Regions from separate parts of the Homo sapiens genome. Here regions 2, 3 and 4 are each reported to be linked to region 1. The links are microRNA targets in miRTarBase. Many come from high-throughput screens and were not tested one by one. Region 1 holds a microRNA gene; each other region holds the end of a gene's coding sequence. Distances are from middle to middle.
Evidence for each region. The annotated mature microRNA hsa-miR-4420 reads GUCACUGAUGUCUGUAGCUGAG and lies in region 1 at 1,603-1,624, shown strand. An mRNA with a match to its seed (bases 2 to 7 or 8) in the 3' UTR can be bound and repressed. Matches are read on the target gene's strand: a 7mer-m8 pairs with bases 2 to 8, a 7mer-A1 pairs with bases 2 to 7 and ends in A, and an 8mer does both.

Region 1 (3,170 bases):
CCTGGGGAGGCCGTTTGCCTTGTGCAGGGTGGCTGTGGGTGCTTGTGCAGAAACTCAAAGGGTTCAGCTAGAGAAATGGAGAAATGGAGCAGGTGGTCCCTGAAGACTCTGAGATCAGTCAAGATTGTTCTGGTTGCCTCCTGAGTGATTTTAGACGACCACATGAGACACCAGGAAACCACTGTTGCAGTGATTTTGTCCCCAGCTGTGAGAGCATATGAATGAATACTGGTCATGGTGGTCACTTGCTTTCAATTGAAGAAGAGGGACTTCAGCCTCTTCCTGGCAGGGCCTCTTACTGTGACTTTGGACCCCTGGGAGTGGCTGGTGGAGGAAGGTCCAATTGTATGCGGGGCGTGGTGGGGAGTGGGGGGTGGGGGGGAGGGGCTCTCTGCTGCCTCCGGGCCTTCACTCATGTTGGTCTTTCTGCCTCCAGTGCCCCGCCCCTCCCTCCTGTTCACTCCTAGTCTCCTTCCCCGATCTAGCCCTGGTGTCCCCACCTCCAGCAAGTCCTCTCTGGTCCCCTCTCCTCTGTAAAAAGTGCACAAAGCCCTTCCTTGCTGGGTTCTTGTGAGCAAATTGAGTCAAATCCTGCTCTTTGAGCCCTGATAGATGGGGATGGTTCCCTTACGTCTCCTGGGACACCAAGACTCCTCTCATTCAGGGCCTGGGTCTTATCCACTCCCTGTCCCCAGAGTGTCACTCAGAGGGAGGTGACCTCAACTGAGGAGGGCAGGGAAGGTTTGGGAGAGGGTGGGAAGGGGATGCATGAGGATATCAGGCTGGGTGGCGGAGTGTTGGCTGCATGCAGGGGACACTTGACGGTGCTGGGCCTACCTTTCAGAACCGGGAGAAGTACCTGCTGCCCTTCCTGTCCCTGCAAATCATGGACTATCTCCTGTGCCTGCTCACCCTGCTGGGCTCCTACATTGAGCTGCCCGCCTACCTCAAGTTGGCCTCCCGGAGCCGTGCTGTGAGTACCCAGCCCCCACCTCTCACCGGACAGCAGAGCCCAGGTCTGGCATGGGAGATGGGAGGGGACCAGACACGGGCCCTGTGCTCAGGCTGGGGAGGGTAGGAGCCCTCTTCCTGGCTGGTGTCTTGACCCAGTCTCTGAGTCCCTCCACATTGCCCCAAGTTTCTTCCTCTGTGGAATGTACCTGCAATCACATCTCATCAGCCTGCCTTATGAGGGTTACATGAGGAACACACACATTGGGGGTGCAGCCCATGGTCAGCACTCAGTCAGTGCTGCTGGGAGTGAATTGACACCTGAGGAAAGGACATGTGCGCTTTTTAGCCCCCAGCCCCCAGTATTATTTCTTCTTTGGAACCAAGTTGAAGAAAGGAAGAGAAGGATGATTCATGCCAGTGAGCGCCCACTGTGGGGTGGCTTGAGGGCTGCTGCCAGTCAAGGACACAGTCTCCCAAACCTGCTTTTCTCACTCTCCCCAACTGTTGTCCTTGAAGAGACCGGGGGGCTACATCATGGAAGGGCCCTGGCCCGGGAGTCTGGAGACCTTGGTTCTAGTCTTGGGTCTGCCACCAGCTCTTGGTATGAACATCTGTGTGTTCATGTCTCTCTGTGCACAGGGGACGAGAGTCACTGATGTCTGTAGCTGAGACGGTCTCTCAAGTGAGGGCCTACTATGTGCCGCTCAGTAACTGGGACTTTAATTGCTGCTCCTCATTCCTCCTCCTTGTATTTGTCCTCCCCAGAGCTCCTCCAAGTTCCCCCTGATGACGCTGCAGCTGCTGGACTTCTGCCTGAGCATCCTGACCCTCTGCAGCTCCTACATGGAAGTGCCCACCTATCTCAACTTCAAGTCCATGAACCACATGGTGAGTCTGGGGCAGGGAACCATGCCCATTTGCTGGCTGTGTGGCCTTGAACAGGTTACTTCACGTCTCTGTGTGTCTGTGGTTTAGGCCAGGTTCCCTGGAGTTGGAGCTTGGGAGGAAGATTCTTGTGCTGGTGATTTATTGAGGGAGCCCTCTCAGGAAGAAACTTGTCAGGAGTGAGGAAGGCAGGTTCGAGAAAAGGAGGAAGCCAAGCAAAGAAGCAAAGATGTGGCTGTAGGAGCAGCCCTGCATGATCCCAGAGAGGGCTTTGGCATGTGAATTGCAACACAGACATAATATCAGTTTTTATTGTTGTCTAATGAATTATCTCTAAGCATCATGGCTTAAAGCAATAAACATTTATTATTTCACACAGCTTCTGAGGATCAGGAGCTTGGGAGTGGCTTAGCTGGGTTCTTCTGACTCAGGGACTCTGGTGGGGCTGCACCAGAGATGGTACCTGGGGCTGTGGACAACTGAGGGCTTGATTAGATCTGAAGGATGAACTCCTGGTGGCTCACTCACAGGGCGTGGGCTCTTTGCCTAATTCCTCATCCTGTGGACTTGTAGTAGTGCTGCTTGAGTGCTCTCCTGACATGGCTGCTGGCTTCCCCTGCGGGAGTGATGTAAGAGATAAGCAAGGAGGAAAGGCAGTGTCTTTTAAGACTTCTATCACTTCTGCCACATTCTGTTAGTTAGAAGTGCGTTGCTAAGTCCAGCCCACACTCAAGGGGAGAGGAAATAAACACCACCTTTAGAAGGGAGGCGTCTCAAAGAATGTGTGGTAATATTTGCAAATGACCACAGAGGCAGTCTCACCTAGGGCGAGTTCCCCTGCATCAGTCATTGGTTTCAAGCTGCCCCTAGGGGAGGGAATGTAACCTCCCAGGTATTAGTGGATTAGGTGGTCCCTGTCAGCCAAAATGATCTTGTAGAGAAGAGCATAGGTGTGGCCCATGGGCAGCTGACACCTGCCAGCTGGGGATGGGCCGGTGCGCCAGCCTGGGAAGCAGATCTGGAGATAGTAGCCACTTGGCTTTTCTTGGTTTGCCCGTCAGTGGGATGGGGCTGAAGGTAGCACCTGCTTCCTAAGGCTGCTGTGGCGGTCGACCAAGGTGACGGCTGTGCCACGCTGTGCTCGTGTGTGTGTGGAGGGTGGGATCATTATTCCCGGATGTGTGGGTGCTGTTGGAATTCCTTATGTCCAGAGACATTGATGTGGCCCCCAAATCTGTTGCAGAATTACCTCCCCAGCCAGGAGGATATGCCTCATAACCAGTTCATCAAGATGATGATCATCTTTTCCATCGCCTTCATCACTGTCCTTA
Region 2 (3,170 bases), 60 Mb from region 1:
TAAATTTTGTAACCCAAATATCTTTACTATGAAAAATGCTCTTTGCTTAATTTACTTTTCAGGAGTCACTCTAGTCTACTGTTTCTGATGTGAAATATTTTATTCTGATGACTGAATTCTTTATATAACTAGAAGGAGAAATAATTGTTTACATATAGTTCAACATATTTTAAAATTAAATGTAGTTTTGATTCCGAAACTTGTGGTCAAACTAATTCTTCTACTTGTATTCACACATGTTGATATTTGGCCTGATAAGACAAAATCATAGAAGTGTAAGAATTAGGAGGCCAGGTGTGGTGGCTCATGCCTGTAATCTCAACACTTTGAGAGGCGGAGGCGGAAGGATCTCTTGAGCCCAGGAGTTCAAGCACAGCCTGGGCAACATGGTAAAACTCTGTCTCTACGAAAAATACAAAAACTAGCCAAGAGTGATGACATGTGCTTTTAATTCCAGCTACTTGGGAGGCTGAAGTGGGAGGATCACTTGAGTCCTGAGAGGTTGAGTCTGCAGTGAGATATGATCACACCATTGCACTCCAGCCTGGGTGACAGAGTAAAACTCTGTCTTTAAAGAAAAAAAAAAAGAATTAGAGTGGAAAGGGGCTCTAGTGATTACTAGCCTTCCCACAAGATTCCTATGATTTTTGTTTGTTTGTTTGGTTTTTACTTCTGGACTCCACTTGCTATGTAGTATGTCTTCCAATTTAAAAATATATATTCAAAGACATATAACTATCAACGAAACTTGTTCAGTAAGAGATAACCAATATATACAGACTTGGTATATTTTCAGTCAAAAGTAAAGAAATGGGATGTTTTAGTTAGTTTTGTCACTATAGACAAATACATAGTTTTTATCGGGACTTTTGTAAAATTGAAAATAACTTACAAGTACTATTCCCTTATCTATTAACCTAAGGATCAGGAGACCCTTGGTTGGGAATGATCCAACTAGTCCAACCTTCTAATTTTGCATATAAGATGGCTCTGAATTTAGAGGTTTGATTAATCATGAAAGGGGGAAAATGATTTTTCTCACATACATTATATTGACCAATGAGGTGATTCTAGAAAAACTATGCTCTGTGATCCAAGTAACCTGGCAAGGATAAACAATTTAAATCCAATGAAACACAACCTGAAGTGAACTATTACCACCAATGATAAAAATAAGAAATGTTTCACATTTTAATTTTCTTTAAACCTTTTTTTATTTAGAGATTTTTCTGGTAAGGAGATATACCATAGGAAAGCAATTTCACTGGCAGTGAGGTATGTATATACTCTACCAAAATACTCCTTATTTTAACTGTTTTTAACTTTATTTACATACGAAGCAAAGAATCAATGCATATCCTTGGTTCAACTATAGTATTAGCCATACTACATGAAATAAAATGGTGCTTGCATACAAAAACTTGTTGTTTGTAAAGGAATCTGATTTCAGATTAAAATACCTAATTGTTTTTGGAAAAAATTTTTAAAAAGAATCACAATTTATCATGACCAAGACACCTGCACCATATTTTCCATTCCTCACAGCACATTTATTTCAGTAATTCTGTTATGTCGGTTCTTAGCATGAGCATAGTGTTACACGATTTTCGTACATATAATCACATCCAAAACAAGTTCTAAAATTTAAATTGTAAACATTCTCATATGTAGAAATATTTTAATTGGTGTATTAAGTTTTGCTAACTGATCAAATTTGGAAGATAATATAAATGAGAACGTCTATTCTAAACTGTGTAGTGAGCATTGTTTATTAATTACATTTCTACAATGTTAAATAAAGTAAGAGGCAAACCTGTCCTGTAAGCATGTCAAATTTTAGGTAAAACATTAAAAAGAAACAAACCTGTTAACAAAAGAATGTCTTGCAATAAAGAACATTAGATTTTTAAAATCTATTATGATACAAAAATGTAAAGGGTAAATAGCATCTTTGTTGACAAAGTAGGAGGTAGCATGGATGCACCACTTTATTGTCTGAGAAATGCAACTGGAGTAAAGAATATTTCCTTACCACAAATAATTTCCAGAACTATGTACATATTTCTTTTAGAAATACTTGTTTAAACAAATCTCCCTCCACTTTTTAGTATAAAAAAAACCGTTCCATGTGATTTTAAAAAAAACACTTACACATCTAGATAGAATAGTACTCTGCCCTATTTGAGTGAACAGTCTCAAACTATGAAGTACATGATATTTAATGCCCTAATTTGAGTAAATTTAGTCAGCGGTTCTTGGTATTATACAAAACACTAAATACATACAAACAAAATATAATATCTTATTTTTCTATGCAAGTCTTGTGGGGAATAAACAGAGCCTTGATTCTGGTAACACTGCAAAAAACATAATTGTCCAATAAGTCTGTCTATAAGTATCCATGTGCAACAGTTTATTAATGGCTGCTTACATGTACTGCTCTTTTACTGAGTGAACACAGTTAACCAACAAAACTTCATAAACCTTAAAAACACATCTTCCACCCTATATAAAATATATAGACTACTTACTGTTTTAAGTATTCAATTTGCTCTGATGTCACTGTAATTCACTTTCCCCCCATTTTCCTGCTTTAGTATTTATAAACAGATAATTTAATGTGGCTTAAAAAAAAAGAATTTCAAATTTACATCCAATTCAAACTGGCTATTTAAAAGGTTTCCTGGTTCTATGAAGCTGCTTCGGCCATTAGTAGAGAAAATGAAGTTTCTGTAATGGAGGCAGGCTTTTTAAGTAGTGACGTGACTTCCACCATGCCAGCTCCAGTCCGTGGAAGATTAGCGTTTACAATATGTCGTTGTAAGTGCTTAATCCAGTCTTCCTGAACAGACAAGGGTCCTCGAAAGACTAGGCCACAAAACCTACAGAAAGATAACAATTCTCTTAACATGACCAATTCTCTTTCTTTAAAACTAATTCACACAAAATCCTAAAACATAAGGAATAAACTTTATCATATTTTAAAGACAGCAATTGATAAAGTTTCTAAAGTCAAATGATTTAATAAAACATCAAAACTCCCAATTCATATGTTTATTAACAGCTATAATAAACTCCAGTAATCTTTGTATAGGTGGGAGCATTATTATTTTAAAATTAACATCTACACATCTTAATTCACTTGAAACAACAACTATTACTCCAAAATA
Region 3 (3,170 bases), not on the chromosome of region 1:
AAAGGACCCACACAGGAGAAAAACCCTATGAATGCAAAGAATGTGGAAAAGCCTTTAGTGATAGGGCAGACCTCATTCGCCACTTCAGCATCCACACTGGAGAGAAACCCTATGAGTGCGTGGAGTGTGGAAAGGCCTTCAACCGCAGCTCACACCTCACGAGGCACCAACAGATTCACACTGGAGAGAAACCCTATGAATGCATCCAGTGTGGGAAAGCCTTTTGCCGGAGCGCAAACCTTATTCGACACTCCATCATTCACACTGGAGAGAAGCCGTATGAATGCAGTGAGTGTGGAAAGGCTTTTAATCGCGGCTCATCCCTCACACATCATCAAAGGATTCATACTGGGAGAAACCCTACCATTGTAACAGATGTGGGAAGACCTTTTATGACTGCACAGACTTCAGTCAACATCCAGGAACTTTTATTAGGGAAAGAGTTTTTGAATATCACCACTGAAGAAAATCTGTGGTGAAAGGGAACATCTTACCATCTGGCCATTCACACTGAAGAGAAACTTCATAAGCATCCTCTCTTTGAGAAAACGTGTAATAGATGATCATTTGTCGTCTAAACAATCAAGTTAGAAATTGAACCAGCCTGGAGTCTTATTCTCCACCTGAGAATTCACCCATGAGAGAGACCCAGTGGTTGCTATGCACTTAGGAAAACTTTCAGCCACATCTTTCTTCTTAGTTTACAGTGAAATATTATCTCAGGGATATTTTTTTTTTTTTTTTGAGACGGAGTCTCGCTCTGTCGCCCAGGCTGGAGTGCAGTGGCGGGATCTCGGCTCACTGCAAGCTCCGCCTCCCGGGTTCACGCCATTCTCCTGCCTCAGCCTCCCAAGTAGCTGGGACTACAGGCACCCGCCACTACGCCTGGCTAATTTTTTGTATTTTTAGTAGAGACGGGGTTTCACCGTTTTAGCCGGGATGGTCTCGATCTCCTGACCTCGTGATCCGCCCGCCTCAGCCTCCCAAAGTGCTGGGATTACAGGCGTGAGCCACCGCGCCCGGCCATCTCAGGGATATTTAAACAAAGGAAGAGGAAATATAGGGAAGAGAAAGAAACCACAGCTTCTTTTAGACTTGTCTGACAAGCCTATGGCAATTTTGTCGTCCCTTTGTTATTTTATGTGGGAGAGGGAAATGTTTCAGAAACGAAAGATCTCATCCCCTTTATTTTTCTGTGTATGCATTCACTGCTGCCCAGTGTCAGAACAGTTATACAAACGAGGGCTTGAAAACATTTTGTGAAAACTTGCTTAGTCCTGCAACGTTCTCCACTCTCGAGGTGCAGAAGCATACATCTTTATAAAAAATATGGAGGCTTGAGTTATGAAACACTTTTATAAGGAGATAAGGATGTACATATGTTTGGACACATTGTCCACTTCAGATGCTTGTTTAAAAAAATGTTTCACCATGTGTCTTTACCCAATACACATACTTTTTCTTGATGTGGATTTACTTTTTTTTTTTTTTTTTAAGTTTTCCTGGGATAGGGATGATAGTGTAATTGTTCATGCCCACAGTAATCCTGGGAATCTTAGTTTTTTCCTATGATTGTGGTTTCTCAGCTTCTTTACCTCTCCTTTGAGTTAGGTCCACCTCAGTTTTCTAAAGGTCAAATTAAGGCCCCCCCAAAAATACAGTATGTAGCTGAATTCCTTTGAAAGATCATGATAAACTCAGAAGAACAAACATAGAAGGAATGTCATTTTTAATCTTTTTAAAGAGTGTGTGAAAATTCACTTTAACTGGAATTTTAACAGGCAAGCCGGCATGCATATATGTAGGGATGTGTGACTTTCACAGTTGTCACCATGGACTTAGGCTTGATTAAAATGCTACACATTTAGAGCGTTTTGTAATTCCTTTTTTATATTTTTAAGACTAGATTTTGAGCCATGTGATAGTTTTACCTCATATTAAATATATTGTACAGAAGTAAAAATAATCATGTATTCACTTTGAACTCCTCAAAGCCTTTTTTATTTATTTACTTATTTACTTACTTGGTTTAGGAGCAGAGGTTTAATAGGCAAAAGAAAGAGAAAAGAGACTAGCTCTCTTCTGAGAAGAGAGGGGTGTCCAAGTGGGACTTCCCTCCTCAGAGCCTTTTTTTTTTTTTTTTTTTTGGAGACAGAGTTTTGCTCTTGTTGCTCAGGCTGGAGTTCAGTGGCACAGTCTTGGCTCACTGCAACCTCTGCCTCCCGAGTTCAAGCGATTCTTCTTCAGCCTCCCAAGTAGCTGGGATTACAGGCATGCGCCACCACGCCCAGCTAATTTTGTATTTTTAATAGAGATGGGGTTTCTGCATGTTGGTCAGGCTGATCTCGAACTCCTGACAGGTGATCCACCTGCCTCGGCCTCCCAAAGTGCTGGGATTACAGGTGTGAGCCACTGCGCCCAGCGCTCACAGCCTTTTAGTGAACACTTGTATAGTTTTCTATTGTAGGCAAAGCCATTTTGTACTGCATTAATTCATGTCATTATTTTGAAGACATCTCTTGGTCCTTTTTTTTTTTTAATTGAGATGGAGTCTCGCTCTGTTGCCCAGGCTGGAGTGCAGTGGTGAGATCTCGGCTCACTGCAGCCGCCTCCACCTTCCGGGTTCAAGTGATTTTCCTGCCTCAGCCTCCCAAGTAGCTGGGACTACAGGTTTGTGCCACCACACCCAGCTAATTTTTGTATTTTTAGTAGAGATGGGGTTTCACCATGTTGGCCAGGATGGTCTTCATCTCTTAACCTTGTGATCTGCCTGGCTCAACCTTCCAAAGTGTTGGGATTACAGGCGTGGCCACTACGCCTGGCCCTCCTTGTCCTTTTTATGTCATGTCTAAGAACTCCTCACCAGGTTTTCTATCGTATTTCCTCCTACAAATTTTATCTTCTACATTGGATCTGATTCATGTTAAGTTAATTTTTGTATTACAGTATGAACTTTAGTTTCTTTTGTTGTTGCCCATGAATTTTTTTAAGCTCCATTTCTTGAAAAGACTATTCTGCCTCTATTGAATTGCTTTTACACCTTAGCAAAAAATTATTTAAGTATATTCATGTTGGTCTATTTCTTGGTTCTCTATGTTATTCCATTGGTCTTCGAGCCTAAACCTATGCCAATACCACTCTATTTTGATTACTATTGCTATCTACTAAAT
Region 4 (3,170 bases), not on the chromosome of region 1:
AATATCACTCTCTGGGAAGAATATGAGTAACAGGGCAAACAGAAGACAATTAAAGAATTGCAGAGTTGTTTGTTAAAGTTTGTGAGGAGAGGAGACATGCTCCCCATACATTTGCCTTGTCAAGGAAGTCAGTTTCTCTTGTTTCCCTCTCAGGTACAGTATCATGAAGTCCTGCTGGCGCTGGCGTGAGGCTGACCGCCCCTCACCTAGAGAGCTGCGCTTGCGCCTAGAAGCTGCCATTAAAACTGCAGATGACGAGGCTGTGTTACAAGTACCAGAGTTGGTGGTACCTGAACTGTATGCAGCTGTGGCCGGCATCAGAGTGGAGAGCCTCTTCTACAACTATAGCATGCTTTGAAGAGTCTCGGGCAAGAAACATTCATGCATGAGTATATGTTCTTGGAATCAATTCCTCTAAGAACAGAGAATGGTCTTTCCCAGGGACACAAAGGGAGAAATGGGACATGGATTCTTGATCTTCCTTTACACATTTCTCGGGAAATCTGAAATGATGCTGGATGGGACTCTACACATCCTGAGCTAAGACATACTGTCAGTCTCACTTCTGCTGTCCCAGTCCTAGAAATCCTGGGTAGAAGTGGTGGACCTGTGCAAAGGAGGTTTTAGAACTCTGCAGTATTTGTTGGGGCATGGCACAAATAAGCTCATCCCTCCCGTCCGAGGCTAGTTTCCTCTGGAACCACATTTTTATCTAGATGAAAATTTGGAATGAAATGAAGGAATAGAAATCCAATAAAAGAGTTGAAGGGAAAGAAAATTTAAGGTTCTTCTTGCTCAGGATTACAGATATGGACCAACACCTCCTTCAAGAAAAGGTGGTAGGACACAAAGTTCTTCAGTCCTGAGCCCTACATGTGGGGTTGGAGGAGAACTATAACGGAAAAACCTCTGAGTTTCACCTTAGGTATAGATAAAAGAAAGATGGTCCCCTTTTATCTGATTCTGAGACAGGTAAATTCTGTTTGTTACTACGTTTAATTAGAAGGTGGAGGAGTCATTTCATGATTAAGAACATTCAACATGTATTGTTCATTAAGCTAGCTTCCTAGTTCCGATTAGACTAAGGAGACTAAGCCTAGAGAGTCAATGTTAGAACAGTGAAAAGAATTCTGTGTGTGTGTGTGTGTGTGTGCACAATAAATAGGAAATGTAGAAACCAAGCAAGAAGGCTTAGTAGCTCAGTCTTTAACAAGGGCTAGAAAAGAATGTAATCTGATATGGAAGGATAGCAGCTTCTAATTTTCAATCATCTGTTGATATACTGTGAAACTTATTTTATTAAATTAATATTTATTAAATGGAAATATGCTTTTCTGGTTTATAACTACTAAAAATATCATAGGGAGGATAAAAGTAAATAAGTGAAAGTTAATGCCAATAGAAAAATTCAAGAGATAATGTACAATGTCAGAAAAGGGATTCTTTATGTGTAAATGGGGATAATACCTATTTCACAAGGTTGTTCTGAGGATTGATACGTTTTGAGTATGTATTTGTACACTATCTGGCACATATGCGCTCAATAAACGTGTTTCTCCTTTTCTTTTGCCCTTCCTAACCCAGGACCTTTCATATATTTTTCATTTAAAATCTACTGTGACCAAGAAGAGAAACTCAGTCGCTAACACTGCAAGGCAGGACATGCCTAAAGATGATGATATGGCACAAGTAGTGATATTATACATGTGCAATGATGAAGTCATCATTTTTGTACGCTTTTGGATGATGATAGTGGACTCCTACTATTACAAAATATTGAAAACATCATCATGAGGGCAATTCTGTTGAACATGGTAGTCTGCAATTTTAAAAAACACTTTGGGTACCCTGGAAGGGACATCTAAGGCTGCCATAAGAAAAATGACTGGCAGCTAAAAATGTTGTAGAAGTTGGAATCCTGATGGAATCATAATGAGTCAGCTAAAGGAATAATGATTCTTGCCGCTGTAAGAATACCACAATGACTAGTCAGGATTTAAATGGGTAGCAAGTTGCAGTAGGGAGAAGGGCAGAAGAGTGGCTTCACACAAAATTACAAAGTCCTATGGAATCCCATTGTTGCCTCTCAGCTGTTCAGTTAAGTCAAAATTACAAATATTTACTTATTTATCTGATCACTGAAAAATATTGAGTGTTAAGGCTTGCTGTGCCAGACACTTGGCTAGGTGTAGGATAAAAGAAATAGGGAGCTTTTGATTACAGTCTAGAAGGTGAGACACATTATACATTTATTTGTGTGGGTATCTGTTAAGTGCGAAGTGTTAAGTGCTATAAAGAAAAAGCATAGGGTAGTAGAAGGGAGTTTAAAAGGAACACTTCCCTGAACAGAAATGGGCTATAAACTGAGACCTTAGGGATGGGTAAGTAACCCAGGCCGAATAAGAAGAGTCTCCCAGGAGGAGGACATGTGTGCGTGAAAATTCTGAGGCAAGGAACTGCAAGAAAGCATATGGGTTGCAGCACGGTGAGCTAAGGGAAAGTGGAACACAGTGAAATGGAAGGTTGCTTTGTTGTACTGTCATATTTCTTTTAGTAGGAGGGAAAGAAGCAGACAATTGATATTTAAGTTTTTTACCCCCAATTTTATTTGTTTTTCCGGCCCGGAAAACTGGATACAGTAATTTTTACTCTAAGAAAACTGGGTCTTTCTCTCACTTGGCCAGGCTTCTTCCAGAAGGAGGATGATATTTCTGGCATCATTGACCTTTCAGCCAAACTAGGTGTTTCCAAGCTAATGAATGAAAAAAAGAATCAAAATATTTATCATTTAATCGGGTTGACTCTAGATAGATTTTGTTGTATTGTTTTGATTGCCTTCTCTTCCAGTCTTGTTTTTCCAATCTATGCTTTATTGTTAAAAAAAAATTCCAACACTTAGGAACAACGCAAACACCCACCTAGATACAGTGTCTAAGGGAAACTTGGTAACGTCGTTTAAAATAGAATAGTCTGAACCAGTAGTTCTTAAATTATGCTTATGGAGCACACTATGTTTTTTTATGCCAGATTTAGGTATTCTGTTATTAAAATCAAATAATAGTAGTGGGTTTTTTTTTAGCATTTTAAAACAAAAAAAGTCAGTTAATTAAGATTTCTTAATCTTAACTCTGTTGCAATAATTTTTTTAAATTTTGCTTTAACACTCTTAC

Region 2: the mRNA of ZNF644 is a reported target of hsa-miR-4420. Seed matches in the 3' UTR shown: 7mer-A1 at 1,261-1,267.
Region 3: the mRNA of ZNF543 is a reported target of hsa-miR-4420. Seed matches in the 3' UTR shown: 7mer-A1 at 705-711.
Region 4: the mRNA of STYK1 is a reported target of hsa-miR-4420. Seed matches in the 3' UTR shown: 7mer-A1 at 1,117-1,123.

What each region holds. Positions count from the first base shown.
Region 1 is chr1:30,737,612-30,740,781 of GRCh38, reverse strand. It overlaps MIR4420 (microRNA 4420), which reads left to right and starts at 1,550; the gene lies at 1,550-1,626. LAPTM5 (lysosomal protein transmembrane 5) reads left to right here. Exons shown (of 8, transcript NM_006762.3): 4 at 845-973; 5 at 1,720-1,842; 6 at 3,083-3,170. RefSeq lists an enhancer at 1,013-1,572.
Region 2 is chr1:90,914,109-90,917,278 of GRCh38, forward strand. ZNF644 (zinc finger protein 644) reads right to left here. Exons shown (of 6, transcript NM_201269.3): 6 at 1,196-2,882. The coding sequence ends at 2,690. Among named protein-coding and RNA genes, the nearest start is that of LINC01763, 64 kb to the left of the region's middle.
Region 3 is chr19:57,328,787-57,331,956 of GRCh38, forward strand. It overlaps ZNF543 (zinc finger protein 543), which reads left to right. Exons shown (of 4, transcript NM_213598.4): 4 at 1-1,984. The coding sequence ends at 479. Among named protein-coding and RNA genes, the nearest start is that of ZNF543, 9.9 kb to the left of the region's middle.
Region 4 is chr12:10,617,332-10,620,501 of GRCh38, reverse strand. It overlaps STYK1 (serine/threonine/tyrosine kinase 1), which reads left to right. Exons shown (of 11, transcript NM_018423.3): 11 at 154-1,579. The coding sequence ends at 358. Among named protein-coding and RNA genes, the nearest start is that of MAGOHB, 5.3 kb to the right of the region's middle.